Regions from separate parts of the Homo sapiens genome. Here region 1 is linked to region 2. A link means that fine-mapping ties the variant in region 2 to the expression of a gene that starts in the linked region. Tissue or cell type: whole blood. Region 2 holds a variant in brackets; the other region holds the start of a gene. All regions are shown on one strand. Distances are between the middles of the regions.

What was found. PIP is the estimated chance that this variant, and not a neighbour inherited with it, causes the effect.
Region 1: MARCO starts here. The variant in region 2 is fine-mapped to the expression of MARCO in whole blood (TOPMed, PIP above 0.99).

The regions. Positions count from the first base shown.
Region 1 is chr2:118,939,720-118,944,867 of GRCh38, forward strand. MARCO (macrophage receptor with collagenous structure) reads left to right here and starts at 2,475. Exons shown (of 17, transcript NM_006770.4): 1 at 2,475-2,678. The coding sequence starts at 2,582.
Region 2 is chr2:118,899,983-118,905,130 of GRCh38, forward strand. No RefSeq gene overlaps it. Among named protein-coding and RNA genes, the nearest start is that of MARCO, 40 kb to the right of the region's middle. The variant C/T (reference allele first, on the strand shown) is at 2,639.

The DNA.
Region 1 (5,148 bases), 40 kb after region 2:
CCTAATCCCTGAGTCTCAGGCCCTGCAAGGTGAATGGATTAGCTTGAGTCATATAAAGTATCCATTTATTGCATATGAAAAACAGATAAATATCTGTCATTCCATATGATTCAACCTAATGGATCCTCCTAGGATGGAGTCAGGAGGCCACACTGCACATGAGTGCTTCAATTATACCACTCGGTGGTCCTAAGCCTGGTGCACATTAGAGCTCTTTCTGAAATTTTTATTAAAACCAGAGCCTCAGGTTTGGGATGGGAAACTGGCATTCCTCTACTGCAAACCTCTGGATTGGAACCCCTGGATTAAACCAGAATTAAATCAGTCTATAGATTGAGGCAGAGAGTCTGGATTCAAATTCTGGTGTAGCTCTTTATAACCACACAATTTAAGGCAAGTTGCAAGTTATGAGTGTTGAGCAATGTATGCAAATGTTTAGCACAGTGTCTGGCATTAACAGTAAATCCTGGATAGGAATTAATGCTTGCACAAGCCATTACTCTGTGTGGAAGTTCAGAGAAGTAAGTCAACCAAGGTCACACAGAAAGTTAATGAAAGAGTTGAATTTGGGACCCAAGTCTCTCTGGTCTCTAGCCAGAGGTGAAGTGACTACACTTGACATCCACTAAGTGCTTCCTTTAAGAACAGGGATCCTCAATAATTAGCCCATGACATTTTCTAATAAGTCCCCTCCCCACACCCATGAGAATCAAAGATGAGCTGACCAGGCAGAGGCAGAGGGAGAGCAGGGAGCTCTGCCAGGCTAAGTGAGCGGGTTCCTTTGCCTAGGGGACTGCCCTCCAGTGGGCAAATCCCCTGTGTCCTCAATTATCTGGTCCTGTCTACCCCCCAGACTCTAGCTGGAGCCATCACTTCCTCATTTCCAATTTTCCTCTTTAAATTTTTCTGTCCTGGCTTCTGCTGCTTGTCCTCTGGCGGAACCAGTGACTTCCTGAATGTTGAAATTGTGGGCGCCACGGGGGACCTCTGCTTTTCAGGGCACTGCTAGGAGCTCACTTTCCTGAGTTTCATCCCCTTTCACTTTCTGACATACCACGGGCCAAAGAAAGTGACTTCGCCTGGCACAGCTTCACTTCCTGCCACCTGTCTTCCTCACCTCTTACATTTCAAATAGGCCAAAAGTCTACGGCTCCCCTGCTCCAGGCTGTCCCACCTCTGAGAGGCTGCACCTGCCCTCCTTCCTCCCTGGAGGGCCTTTGCCTCATCTTGATCTGGATCAATCCCCCATTATCCTTTTAAGCCCAGCTCTGGTATCTGATATCTCTTGATTCAGATGATAAAGCTATTTGTCATATTTCTGCCCTGTCTCCCCTGCCTCCCGGCACTTCTGTCTTTTCAGGGACATCAACCTTTGCCGCACTTCACAGCAATTTTCTGGAATGTAGTTGTAGCCGCAACCATCTTGCATGGTAGACTGTGAATATCTTTCATGAAAAAAGGCCATTTCTTCATCTCCTCGGTGCCCAGCAGGCTCACAATGTCTCTAATGATAATAACAACAACATGACCATAGTGTTTATTACCTAATACTTCCATCCTAGCCACCTTATATGATTTAATTCATTTAAGGCTCACGAAATTCATATCTTCCTTATTTATACAAACAGAAGAGTGAGATGCTCAAAGCTCAAGTGATTTGCCTACTGCCAGACAGCCCCTATGTGGAAGAGGTGGAATTTGAAGCCAGGCATTCTAGCTCTTAGTGTCTGTGTCTTAACCACCATGCTATACAGCATCCCTGGTAGAGATGCCTGACGGGAGGGAGAGAGGGGAGAAGCTACTTTCCTTAAGGAGCTCAGATCTCACTGGGGCCTGGACAAGGACACCTGTAACACATGTACACATGTGCACACATGTGTACACACACAGAGAGAGAACATGGGAAAACTACAAGAAGAAATACTAAGTGCTAAAATGTGTGGTTCAGAGCAAGGCTTCTCAAACTGTAATGTGTATATAAATCACCTGGGGATCTAGTTAAACTGTAGATTTGGATTTGATCTGATGGGGTGGGACCAGAGACTCATTGTTAGAACAAGTGAACTTGCATTTCTAACAAGTTCTCAGGTGATACTAATACTGCTGGTCCATGGACCACACTTTGAGCAGCAAGGATGAACTCTAAAGGTTGAGGCAGGTCAGAGAAGGGAGATTTCACTGTGGGCTGGAGAGGTCCTGGGACAGAGAGCTGAGTCTGGGCCCATGGCAGGGCTTGGTTGGCCCTCTCTGGAGCCATCCAGCTTTTGGGTCTCAGGGACCTGGGAGTGACGGGTGCATTCAGAGGCCCGTAACTTGTGTCCCAAAGCCTCCTCGATCCCCCTTAACAAGCAGCAGCACTGTGTGGGAGATCCACATGTGAATAGCCCGTGTTTGAGAAATGTCCAATCCTGATCATGTCAGGAAACATCCTGCAAATTCTGAAATCAGAGCCAAAGGGAAGTGCTGCGAGGTTTACAACCAGCTGCAGTGGTTCGATGGGAAGGATCTTTCTCCAAGTGGTTCCTCTTGAGGGGAGCATTTCTGCTGGCTCCAGGACTTTGGCCATCTATAAAGCTTGGCAATGAGAAATAAGAAAATTCTCAAGGAGGACGAGCTCTTGAGTGAGACCCAACAAGCTGCTTTTCACCAAATTGCAATGGAGCCTTTCGAAATCAATGGTAAAGTACGATTCCCCAATAATGGAAATGACCAGAAATGTAGTCTTTCTGCTAGCGAGATACGAAAATAGACAAGTCAATAGAAAGTCTAGGTTTGGCTTATTGCTGCATTTTGCACGTAATCATCACTAATACTGTCTGGAGTGCTTCAATTTGGAATTTCTGGAATGCTAATAATAGATGCTGTATTTTTAGCATATAGTCAGGTTTTTCTTAGCTTCACTATTGTTTTAATCATATTTAAATATTTTCCCTTGAAAAAATGCCAATGCTTATTAAATGTCCCCTTTTTTTAATGAATGTCTTATTCTGACACACAGGTTGGGTGATACAATGAAAACGCAAAACAGGGGCACTGAAAGGGGACCACAAAACTGAAGCCAAGCATGACAGTTTTCAAAACACAGCTTCTTTAAAATTCTTTAAGGGGATTTCTGTTATAACTGATGTGCTGGTCAGGAAACATATTCTGTATTTCATGTTGACTGAAATATGTTCATAGCTTCATAATTAGTTTGTCTTAGGTTAAACTCAGGTCTGTAATATTCAGTCAACTCTGTTGTCTTTATTTTCTCACTCAGCATTCAACAGGTGATGCATTTTTAAAATCTTCTAGAATTTGTAGCATTTGAAGTCATGGGTGGGCTTGCATTCCACAAATGAGCTCTGATTTCCTAGTCTAGAACGTTCTCTTGGGATCATCTTCCAAGTTGATCAGTCATTTCCACTCCCAGGCTTTGCTGGAAGTTGTCTATGCAGGAAAATTGGTGGCTTTATCTCCTGGCCAGAGTGTCCTTCTCATCCCACACCTGTCTGCCCAGGTCCCTGCCTGGAATTTTCAGCGCACAAAGATGAAGCGTCTGGGGCTCTGCCTCTAGGAATTTACAGTGTAATAACAGAGAAAGGTGTGAGTGCTAATGGCTATAATAATCATTGGCTATTTAGAACTTCTCAGAATGCAACATTCTGGATACATGACTGTTTAAGAGACTGAAGATGTTCAAGCAAAGTCAGCTGATCAAGCATACTCAGCACCTATTTCCAGCAGGGCACTGCACTCAGCACTGAGGAAACAGGCTTGAATAAACATAGCCTCTGGCCTCTGGCTTCTGGCACGAGGGGACAGGGGACAGGGTAAGCTGCCCATGAACTGACAATTTCCATGTTGTGACTGAGACTTCCACAGGACATGATGGACAGATCTAACCAGGTGTAGAGCCCTGGAGGGCAGAGCTGACACCTCTTCCAAAGTTTAAAGGATAAAGGGAGTCCGTTAGAGAAAGAAGTTAGTGCCTGGGGCGGGGTGGGCGCCACATGTTTGTATTGTATTCACAAGAAATATTCAGAGAAATATAAATACTTCCATACTGTTTGGCCAAAATTGGGACGGAAAGACCAGTGGGGACTGAGGCTGGAACCAAAAAATTTGACTTCATCCTGAGGTCAGTGGGGAAGCAGGAAGGGGCCGATGTGGGGCTGAAAGGCACTAATGTGCATGTGAGGTTGCTCTTTGTCCTACATAGGGATGGCTGGAGAGAGAAGCTGAGGACAGAGAGGAACTTGGCAGCAAGAGATGATGAGGGGCAGTGGATGGAAGGCAGGAAAATAAAGGAATGCTCTGGAGAAACACCGGAAATCAGATCAATTGGACTGCAATGGCAGGACAGGGCTGGGGAGGAAGACGCAGGAGTTAATAGTGAACCCTAGATTTCTGACCTGGGTTGTGTGTGTCACCAATTAAAAATGTAACTAAGCCAGTGCAGGAGGATTCCTTGAGCCCAGGAATTTGAGACCAACCTGGGCAACATAGTGAGACCCTATCTCCACCAATAAATAAATAAATAAAATGTTTAAAGTATCTCACCAAAAAACCAAAACTACTCCAATTTGGATGAAAGAAACATTTTCTTATATGCATTCACAACATCCTGCCTTCTAATACAAAGATTGTGGAACATATGAAACTTTCTAGAAGAGTGCCATTATGCAGGTAATCACTGTGAGGCTCTGGTAACACAGTGACCCCTCAGGGCCGGCTCTGCACATTACTTATTTTTTGTCTGCTGAAGATTTATTTATTTAGGCCATATATAGTTTTATTTTCTTTTGAAAATACATTATCTTAAAATTCCCACATATGGTTCATGAAAAACAGCACTGAAAAATATTTCTAATGTCATTTTCCTCATTTATTTTTCTCTATTGTTGGTATTGAAATATAAAATGCTGTTTTTCCCTGATTATAAAGTATTAAACTAGTTTTTTTTTATTATTATTACCCAAGGATACTGGACTAGGAAAGTTTTCAACACATGCTGAAGAAAATTTTAGAAGTGAGTTTGGGAAACTTTTGGAATATAACCTTCATTTTTTCTAAAATTAATCTTAAAAAAAGGATGAGGAGTGTAAATTTCACACTGTACCCTCTAGAAGCACAGTGCAACTTGCATCCCTCTTTCCTGCCATCACC
Region 2 (5,148 bases):
ATTTGCTTGTCTATAAAGTATTTTATTTCTCCTTCACTTACAAGGCTAAGTTTGGCTGGATATGAAATTCTGGTTGAAAATTCTTTTCTTTAAGAATGTTGAATATTGGCCCCCACTCTCTTCTGGCTTGTAGGGTTTCTGCCGAGAGATCCGCTGTTAGTCTGATGGGCTTTCCTTTGAGGGTAACCCGACCTTTCTCTCTGGCTGCCCTTAACATTTTTTCCTTCATTTCAACTTTGGTGAATCTGACAATTATGTGTCTTGGAGTTGCTCTTCTCGAGGAGTATCTTTGTGGCGTTCTCTGTATTTCCTGAATCTGAACGTTGGCCTGCCTTGCTAGATTGGGGAAGTTCTCCTGGATAATATCCCGCAGAGTGTTTTCCAACTTGGTTCCATTCTCCACATCACTTTCAGGTACACCAATCAGACGTAGATTTGGTCTTTTCACATAGTCCCATATTTCTTGGAGGCTTTGCTCATTTCTTTTTATTCTTTTTTCTCTAAACTTCCCTTCTCGCTTCATTTCATTCATTTCATCTTCCATTGCTGATACCCTTTCTTCCAGTTGATCGCATCGGCTCCTGAGGCTTCTGCATTCTTCACGTAGTTCTCGAGCCTTGGTTTTCAGCTCCATCAGCTCCTTTAAGCACTTCTCTGTATTGGTTATTCTAGTTATACATTCTTCTAAATTTTTTTCAAAGTTTTCAACTTCTTTGCCTTTGGTTTGAATGTCCTCCCGTAGCTCAGAGTAATTTGATCGTCTGAAGCCTTCTTCTCTCAGCTCGTCAAAATCATTCTCCATCCAGCTTTGTTCCGTTGCTGGTGAGGAACTGCGTTCCTTTGGAGGAGGAGAGGCGCTCTGCGTTTTAGAGTTTCCAGTTTTTCTGTTCTGTTTTTTCCCCATCTTTGTGGTTTTATCTACTTTTGGTCTTTGATGATGGTGATGTACAGATAGGTTTTTGGCGTAGATGTCCTTTCTGGTTGTTAGTTTTCCTTCTAACAGACAGGACCCTCAGCTGCAGGTCTGTTGGAATACCCTGCCGTGTGAGGTGTCAGTATGCCTCTGCTTGGGGGTGCCTCCCAGTTAGGCTGCTCGGGGGTCAGGGGTCAGGGACCCACTTGAGGAGGCAGTCTGCCCATTCTCAGATCTCCAGCTGCGTGCTGGGAGAACCACTGCTCTCTTCAAAGCTGTCAGACAGGGACACTTAAGTCTGCAGAGGTTACTGCTGTCTTTTTGTTTGTCTGTGCCCTGCCCCTAGAGGTGCAGCCTACAGAGGCAGGCAGGCCTCCTTGAGCTGTGGTGGGCTCCACCCAGTTCGAGCTTCCCGGCTGCTTTGTTTACCTAAACAAGCCTGGGCAATGGCGGGCGCCCCTCCCCCAGCCTCTTTGCCGCCTTGCAGTTTGATCTCAGACTGCTGTGCTAGCAATCAGCGAGATTCCGTGGGTGTAGGACCCTCTGAGCCAGGTGTGGGATATAGTCTCATGGTGCGCCGTTTTTTAAGCCGGTCTGAAAAGCGCAATATTCGGGTGGGAGTGACCCGATTTTCCAGGTGCATCCGTCACCCCTTTCTTTGACTCGGAAAGGGAACTCCCTGACCCCTTGCGCTTCCCAGGTGAGGCAATGCCTTGCCCTGCTTTGGCTCGCGCACGGTGCGCGCACACACTGGCCTGAGCCCACTGTCTGGCACTCCCTAGTGAGATGAACCCGGTACCTCAGATGGAAATGCAGAAATCACCCGTCTTCTGCGTCGCTCACGCTGGGAGCTGTAGACCGGAGCTGTTCCTACTCGGCCATCTTGGCTCCTCCTTCCGGCACTGGCTTTCATTACCACCAATCCCTCTGCACACAGCAAGCTGGCACCATACCTTGGCCTGAAGTGGCTTCAGTGGACTCTCTTTGCTTCTGTGTCTGTTGTTGTCTGTAGATTTGGCCCTGATGTCCGGGTGGGTGGGCCCTTAGAGCTGAGTGATGCCCACACCCACTGAAGCCCTCTGCGGATGGCTGTGTGCCTCATCCCTGCCCCTCCCAGGGATCTTTCCTTTTTCCTTCTTCTCTTCCTTCCCTTCTCCCTGATCTGCTCCTTCTCTCTCACTTGCAGTGGAAGTTAGCATGTGTTTTCCTGTGGACATCTTCTCACTGAGAGGAAAAGAACAGCCTGTGTTATGGGCTGAGTCGCGTCTCCCAACCCCAAATCTCAGATGTCGGAGTCCTAACCCCAGGACCTCAGAATGGAACTGTATTTGGAGACAGGGTCTTCAAAGGGGTGATTAAGTTAAATGAGGCAGTTAAGGACGCCCCTAGTGCAGTCTAACTGGTGTCCTCATAAGAAAAGGAAATTGGGACACAAAAAGAGACCCTACCATGTGAGTGGAGAGAGGGCCGGCCCCGCAAGGGCAGTAGGAAGGCAGCCGCTTGCAAGCCAAGGAGAGAGGCCTCAGAAGAAAGCTACCTGCCAACACTTTCATTTTGGAACTTCCAGCCTCTAGAACTGAGAGGAAGTGAATTCTTGATATCTCAGCCAACTCGTCTGTGGTCTTTTGTTATGGCAGCCTGAGCTGACTGTTCCAGCCTCTCAGAAGTGCCATAGGGAGAATAATTCCTACCCCATTTCCTGTCTCCCACCGTCTCCCACCTCTA[C/T]CTCCACCTCCAGAATAAACATCTTTCTCTGTTTTATCCTGGAAATAGAACATATCCAGTGTCTCCAAAGTGGCCTGGCTGCAGACGTGTGGCAGAGACTGAGAAAGTTGCACATCTGATCGAAGCATTGATGGAGATATCTGGTGATCTGTGCTGAGATGGCACGAACACCTCCTCGGCCACTCGCTCCCATAGGCTTTATTCTGTTTTTAAAAACACCTTCATATGTATTACTCATTGTAACCTCACCACAGTGGAAAAACAGGAAGCATTCAAAGAAATTAAATTTTATAGATGAAGAAACCAAAGTTCAAGGAAGTTAAATTGTTGGTCTGGCACCATATGACTTCCTGTTTTTAGAGTTTATGTCAGTTACTGTGGTAGAATTAGTGTCTTCCCCAACATCATTCCAGCTTTCACTCTCTGGGCAGGTGGCACACTTTTGAAATATGGCATATCTGTTTGACTTGCTTTAACTAGTGAAATGTGTGGGGAGTGACACGTGTCACTCAGGGAGAAAGCTTCTAGGGCCAGTGTGCCATTCCCAAGACTCTCTTCCCAGCCTCCCATAGCCAGATCCCTGAGCAGCTGAGATGGGCAGAGCTCCCCTGCCAATCCCCAAGGGGCATGGCACCTGAGTGAGAAATTAACTTGTATAAAACCCCTGGGGTGTGAGCATGGTTGTCATCATGCACGACCTAACTTAACCTGACCAATACAGTTAAGATGCTATTGGCTGTGGGGAAAAGAAAATCCATCAGAAAGTGGCTCAACAATAAGGACATATATTATCTCCTGCAGAAAAAAGTCTGAAAACAGAGTAATTGCAAGTTTGGACAATTCTGAAGCTCAATGATGTCCTTGAGGACTCAGATGTTTTTCCACCTGCCATGGCCAGCACTTCATTTCCTCCCCTTAGAGGGACAAAATAGCGTCAGCAGCTCCAGCCATCACATCCTCACACAGAAATATCCAAGGGTCAGAGAGAGAGAGAGAGAGAGAGAGAGAGCTTCCCTTTCACGTGTCCCTTGCTAAGAATGAGCACAGCCTTTCCAGAAGTCTCCTTTCTGCAGTGGAGTTTCCTTCAAGCCTCCTTGACCAGATCTGTGTCACATGCCCACTCAAGTATCCAAGGGAACAAAATCAACATTGATTTGCTGGACGGATTGAGCTCCTTTCCCTGGGGCAGATGAGGGACCCATTCTCCCTGAAGCACAAGGTCACCTAATTCTGTTGGCAAGAAAGGGGAGCAGCACAGTTGTGAAGTCCCCAGTAGTGTTTGCTGTAAGGTTGATTCGAGAACCTGAGTCCCTTACACCAAAAACTCGCCTCAAGAGTTAGAAGAGGAAGGTCCATGCTCACCCCTGACACTTTATGAATAAGCACAGAAAGATTCAGAGCTTCAAGGGGAGGAGCTGAGACTCACAAGCTCCTCAGCATTGAACACAGTGCTAGGCAGACGGTTCAGCCTCAGGGACAACCTTCAGGCCCATCTTCAGGCAGGGAAGTATTAATATTTTTCACATGTGCAGATGCAGACACCAAGACCTCCAGAGGTCGTGACTCCTGGGTTCTCAGCCAGTTAGTGGTGCAGGAGACCCGGGAACCAGGACTGCTGCTTCCCAGTACAATATCCATTTCTTACCCAGCTCCTGTTTGCACAACAGCGCTTGCTGATTGATTCATTAAAGTCCTGTTTGCTACTTTCACTTTGGGAAATAAACTGGCAGCTGAAATTATAACTAGATTTAAGAGAAGGATGACAGACCCAGATTGGAGCGTATGAAGGGAAACTTAATACATTCACATTGGGAACACTCAGAATTTGATATCAGGAAAAACGTCCCCATCTTTCCATTAAACACTTCCCTGGGACTTCCAGCAGAGACAGAAATTTGGCCTGGGTAAAGCCAAGAAGCTGACCCAGTGTGGCAATTCTGACCCCCTTAATGGTGAGGATACAGGCCAGGGAATTTCTGATTTCAGAATAGTTTTCCCCAAAACATTAAATTGTTTTGAAGGAAGAGAGATGTGCCTTTTTTTGTGTGGGAGTAACTGTGTGATTGTATGTGTGTATATTGTGTATATGTGAGTTTATGTGCATGTATTTGTGAGTAGGTGCATGGTGTATATGCCTGCATGTGTGTATTTGTCTGTATATGTGTGTGTATGCATTTGTGCTTCCATTCTCCTGCTGAGGGTGGAGTGAGGAGGAATGGTATATGTGACCTTTCTGGTTATCTTTCTAATACTGCAAAGTCCACCTTTATATAAGGTGAAGGTTTCCATTTCCCTTGTCCTCAGAAATCCCCAAACACACTTGATTTATGGGATGCTCTTCTGCCTAAGTTCCCATGAATCAGACCAGTGCAGGAAACACTGAGGCGTCTCCCAGGAGGACAGCTGCTCAGTGCTGCCCAGCATCCCATTGTCTCCCCCTCAGTTACCGCTCGACTGCCCAGTTGGCTGCAGGAGGTTAGGCCTTACTTCCCCCAAATAGTGGTGAACAA